Regions from separate parts of the Homo sapiens genome. Here region 2 is linked to region 1. The links come from fine-mapping of genetic effects on gene expression. Tissue or cell type: cerebellum. Region 1 holds a variant in brackets; the other region holds the start of a gene. All regions are shown on one strand. Distances are between the middles of the regions.

The links.
Region 2: LIRIL2R starts here. The variant in region 1 is fine-mapped to the expression of LIRIL2R in cerebellum (GTEx, PIP above 0.99). The same link has a PIP of 0.9 or more in caudate, cerebellar hemisphere, cerebral cortex, hypothalamus, nucleus accumbens and putamen.

Annotation. Positions count from the first base shown.
Region 1 is chr6:151,982-154,895 of GRCh38, forward strand. No RefSeq gene overlaps it. Among named protein-coding and RNA genes, the nearest start is that of LIRIL2R, 27 kb to the right of the region's middle. The variant G/A (reference allele first, on the strand shown) is at 1,754.
Region 2 is chr6:179,285-182,198 of GRCh38, forward strand. LIRIL2R (lincRNA regulator of IL2RA) reads left to right here and starts at 1,111. Exons shown (of 2, transcript XR_926349.3): 1 at 1,111-2,914. It overlaps LINC03066 (long intergenic non-protein coding RNA 3066), which reads right to left. Exons shown (of 8, transcript NR_126020.1): 8 at 2,182-2,411.

The DNA of each region.
Region 1 (2,914 bases):
TCCTACTCAGAGGGTTTAATTGCTCACCTACTTCTTTTTCTGCCTTCTTGGGCTCCTAAAATGAAAAAAAACCCTGGAGTGATAAAGTGAATCAAAGGGGTACCAGCTGCATCACAGCAAAATAGATTCCTAAAAAATCCCTGGCCTAAGATGACAGCCTTGGCTGGATAAGCTTGAATGTGCTGATAGTGGACATGGTAGAATGAAGGTGGTTGAAATGTTCATATTAAAGAACTTCCACCCAGATTGCAAGAAAAGAGAGAGGAATGGAGATGGCAGCACAAGCCCCTACAATAAAAGCAGATGTTTTGAGATCAGTTATATTTGTCCTGAAAAAAATAAAAACAGAAACCAAAGTTTAGCCTGAGGCTACAATTAATTGGGCAATAAGCCAGAGGCATATATGGCATAGACAGACTTAAACATTTCTCCCTTGTATTAATACAAATACTAAAATTACAAATAAACTGATTCCAAATAAAACAAATACTTTAAAAATTTAATGAATAAACACTGGAGTCTACAGTAGCATTTGAAGGAGATCTCACAAACAGGTTTGGTTTCTGAAGGTTAGAACTGATGGTCTAGAGAATTCATTTCATTCCAGAGACAGAAAGAGAGGAATTTCTTAGGCTCCTTCAGGAATGCGTCTGGCTTTGCATCATCTTTGTATGTTTGAACTATGCATATGGCGTAAGAAAACAGGATTTCACAGATTTAAGGTGCGAAAAGTCACTGGGTTCTCTTAAGAAGTCTGGGATTATTCTGCTGGAAAAATAAGTTTGTTGAGAAAAAATGAGTTGGAGGAGGCTGTTATTGAAGTGAAGCAGAATTGTTTTTACTAATCTGCTTATTACCCACTCTGTAGTGTGGAAACAAATTATTCATGCACAAGGTCCTCTCACTGTTCCTGGAATGCAGTGGAAAGAGAACAGATTAGTTTTTCCTCCTTCAGAACACAACCACTAGAAACATCCTACCTCAGATGAGATATTCCCTAATTATTTTCAAAAGACAGTGAAAAACGATGGATGTAAATGTTTGCTACAAAATAAATACATGGTAGAAACAGAAGCATCTGGGTCACAGCTATATTAGAGCTACCTGTGTTCCCCTGTCACTGAGATTAAAACAAAAATGTCCAATACAATCATTCACAGCATGGGAGAGGGGAAGTTGAAGGGTTAGGAAACGCCAGTCATAAAAGGATTTCAGAATTTCAGTCCATAAGGAAGTGGTTTTGTGCATTGTCTGTTCTTGTGTGCAAGGTGAAGTCTGGAGAACAGAAACGTGCAGTAACAAGGGCTCCTTTGTCCATATCACCTCTCTAGATATCAAGTTTCAGACATGTTGCATTTTAATTGAAAGGTTGATATAATTTTTTGAAAAAGAAAACTTGTGGTGTTTGAAGTGACAAAGACTGCTGTGACAAAAAAGCAGGGAAAGGGAATTTTTTTTAAAAAAGCAAACAACAACAACAAAAACCCACAAAAAAGCAAACAGCAAACAAACAAAAAACAGGGGAAGAAGTCGAAACACCCTGGGTTGTGACTACTTCCAGGAAGGGGCTACAAGAGGCAGTTGGAAATTCTATTTGCTTTGCAACTGTGAGTTTTCCAGCCTGCTCCCTTTCTAAAGTATATTACTCTGCTTTTGGTTCATGAAGTTATCCATTTCTGTTTTCTGGAACAGCTATGTATTTTCTTTATCTATCATCTATCTATCTATTTACCATCTATCTTTTCTACCTTTC[G/A]CTATCAAGAGCTTGGGTCAAGCAGGATAGAATTCCAGTGTATGTTCACTCTACCATTTAAAACAAGAGCTCTTGTAGGCATTCTCCATCACATCATAAACCTGAGCTTTCTAAAACAGGGTGTGGCAAACTACCATGCATGGGCCAGGTCTGACACAGTCTGCGTTTGTAAGTAAAGTTGTAATGGGACACAGCCACATACATGTGTTATACAATGTCTCTGGCTACTTTCATGGTATAATGGAAGAGCTGAGTCATTGAGAGAGGGACAACATGGCTTGGAAAACTTGAAATATTTAACATTTAGCCCTTTGCAGAAAATATTTGCTGACTCTTGTTTTAGAAGATCTCTCTTTAGAATGCTACCTATTGCCTTCTGGATAGAATCACAACTCTTTACCACAATCAACACACAGCCCTGCTTTTATTATTTCCACTCCTCCTCCTTATTTTCCTTCTGACAATGCCGATGGATTGTCAGCTTCCCAGATGTGCAAGAATCTCTCCTCCCTTCCCGACATTCTCATGCTCTCCCTCTGCCTCTCAAGAACTTCCTGTCCCATCTCTCATGACAAATCTCTTCTTCATTCTTTAAGATGCAGCCCCTTTGCTCCTTCCTTAAGGATGTCTGTCTGGCTTTATTTTGGGTGACATGCTCCTTCTGCATCTCCCAGAGCCAGCCTCTGTGTGTCAGCTACAGCATTTCTTTGCATCTCTGTGTCATATATCATCAAATCTGCCTAAGCTTGAGTGAGTCACTGCATGACAACTTCAGACTCCACCAGCATTGTCTGCACTAACAACGAGGCTTAGAGATTTGTCCAGTATGCTCGGGGTTGTGGGGTGGTAGCAGTAACCAGCTGGTGAGCATCATCTCTTACATCAGAATGAAATCTGTAGATCTCTGCCATTCATAAGTATTTGGAGCTTAAAATTAGCATAAAGATTTTCCTTAAGAACAAATGGCTTGAGTAGGCTTTTGGAACGTAGGATATTTCTGCTCGTTCATTTCAGCGTTCAGTATTCCCACATGAATCTAAACACGGCTCTGCTCTTAGTAACTGTGCGACCCTGGGAAAGTCACTCAATCTCCCTCAGCTAAATTTTGTTGTGTGAGTAATGAGAAGAGAGTTGTGGTTTGTATTTAGTGAGTAATAACAA
Region 2 (2,914 bases), 27 kb after region 1:
CTCCAAGTCCCCACCCAACCCAGAAGCCCAGCCGGGCTTCACCTCTCAGTAGGAGCGGGGTGCAGGTAGGATCAGGGTGCTGGAGGGGCATGGGAGGGTAGGACAGAGTGCGGTAGTGAGAGGTGACAGAGTGCTGGCAGCCCTCACTCGCTCTCGGTGCCTCCTCGGCCTCGGCGCCCATTCTGGCTGTGCTTGAGCAGCCCGTCAGCCCAGCGCTGCACCGTGGGAGCCCTTCTCTGGGCTGGCCGAGGCAGGAGCCGGCTCCCTCAGCTTGCGGGGAGGTGTGGAGGGAGAGGCAGGGGCAGGAACTGGGGCTGCGCATGGCACTTGTGATCTAGCTAGAGTTCCGGGTGGGCGTGGGCTTGGCGGGTGGGCGTGGGCTTGGTGGGCCCCACACTCAGAGCTGGCTGGCCGGCCCCACCAGCCCCAGACAGTGAGGGGCTTAGCACCCGGGCCAGCAGCTGTGGAGGGTGCTCTGGCTCCCCGAGCAGTGCCGGCCCACCGGTGCTGCGCTCAATTTCTCACTGGGCCTTAGCTGCCTCCCCACGGGGCAGGGCTCGGGACCTGCAGCCCACCATGCCTGAGCCTCCCCCCAGCCGCCGTGGGTTTCTGAGCAGCCTGAGCCTGCCCAAGGGGTGCCGCCCCCTGCTCCACAGCACACAGTCCTATCGATGCTTAAGGGCTGAGGAGTGCTGGTGCGTGGTGTGGGTGTGCAGTGTGGGACTGGCGGGCAACTCTGCCCACGGCCCCAGCGCAGGATCCACTAGGCAAAGCCAGCTGGGCTCCTGAGTCTGGTGGGGACTTGGAGAACTTTTATGTCTAGCTACAGGATTATAACACCAATCAGCACTCTGTGTCTAGCTAAAGGTTTGTAAACGCACCAATCAGTGCTCTGTGTCTAATCTAGTGGGGACTTGGAGAACTTTTGTGTCTAGCTAAAGGATTGTAAATGCACCAATCAGCACTCTGTGTCTAGCTCAAGATTCCTAAATGCACCAATCAGCACCCTGTCAAAACGGACCAATCAGCTCTCTGTAAAATGGGCCAATCAGCAGGATGTGGGTGGGGTCAGATAAGGGAATAAAAGCGGGCTGCGGAGGCAACCGTGGTAAGCTGTGCTTGCATCATGTTTGGAAACTGTCGTACTGCGCGAAGCTTTGCAGCTTCCCTCCTTAAAGGCAGTGAGATGGCAAACCCACTGGGAGGAATGAGAAACTCCAGGCGCACCACCTTAAGAGCTCGTGACACTCACTACAAAGGTCTGCAGCCACTCCTGAAGCAAGCGAGACCACAAACCCACCAGCAGAAAGAAACTGAACACGTCCAAACATCTGAAGGAACTAGCTCCAGACACACCATCTTTAAAAACTGTCACACTCACTGTGAAGGTCTGCGGCTTTATTCTTTTAGTCAGTGAGACCAATTCCAGACACAAGACCATCTCATCTCAAGAGACCAGGACGTCCGGGCACCCCTAGAATGTAGCTGCTGGCAGAGCCTGAAGTCTATCCAGCTCATGCTCTTCCCTGATATCCTTGACAGATTGTGGGATGGTTCAGCCTCTGCAAGGACATGGCCAATGATGGGGGGCTGGTTTTGGGGGCAGCACTCTAGGCAAGGGAAGAAATAAAGTGTCTGGGAACTGGCGTGGTGAAGGGGCACTTTGTGGAGAAGATGTGTTCACATTTGGATGTGTCGAGGGTGGAATGATATGAGGAAAGTCAAAGGGTGCCCACCCCCAGAGCCTAGGTGTGGGCACAGCACTGCACCACGCCTTAGGGGAGATTGGACTCTGGGCAGAGATCCCAAGAGAAGCAGGAGTTGGAGTCTTGGGGGCCAGTGTGATAGGGAACTAACTTTACTTTAAAGCCAATTTGTCAGTAAGAAAAAACGAGGTGCACCTTGTAGGAGAAAAAGTCACAAGCTTGGTGTGCTTGAAGTCACAAGCCTTGCTGTGCTTGGTGAGAGGGATCCCGAGTGTACTTGAGGCACTCTCCTGTTTAAAAGGGGAACGGTGGTTTTCTTTTCTCAGTGTAGGTTAGTGTAAAAAATCTGCTTTGTAATTGCATAAGGTCTCAGCACAAACAAAATCACAGAAAATGTGAAATGTATTATAACAGTCAACTTGCTTAGAATGTAGTTGAACCTGCATGCAGTATTGAGACACCAGACAACTGTTTTCAGTCTCCACATTTCTTTCATTTCCTTTATGAAAGTTACATTAAGAAAAAAAATAACTCCCTTGAGTATTCTGATATTTTCGGTGAGTGAAACAGTAATCTCAGCAAAGTTCAATCTTGGTATCAGACAGAATTTCAGGTTGTTTCATCTAATTGCCACTTAATACCAAAGACATGATGTTTATTAGCATGTATTTCTAATGAGAAACTATTATAGTCGTCCTCAATTGTCTGAAATATGAAGCGGAAAAAGAAAATTATGAGCCCCAGATACCAGACCAGTTGCTGATCAGATAGAATATCGTGGTTCCAGCATATTATGAAATAAAAATTCAAAGACTGAATACCATGCAAAAGGTCAATATTCGGCAGCATCTGAGAAGTCATACATCTAGATAGACCTAAACTATAAGTGCAGAAGTGCTACAGTAAACTATATGGGCTTTCTACTAAGTACTGGCTAATTTTAAAACATACTGAAATTTATGTACATTAGTCTTTGTTATAAGAATTGAGAATCCGCATTGTATTATAAAGTTGATCTACAACAGTCACTTTATTATAAAATATTTTCGGCCTGGCGCGTTGGCTCACACCTGTAATCCCAGCACTTTGTGAGGCCGAGGCAGGCAGATCACCTGAGGTTGGGAGTTCAAGACCAGCCTGACCAACATGGAGAAAACCCCATCTCTACTAAAAATACAAAATTAGCCGGGCGTGGAGGCAGGTGCCTG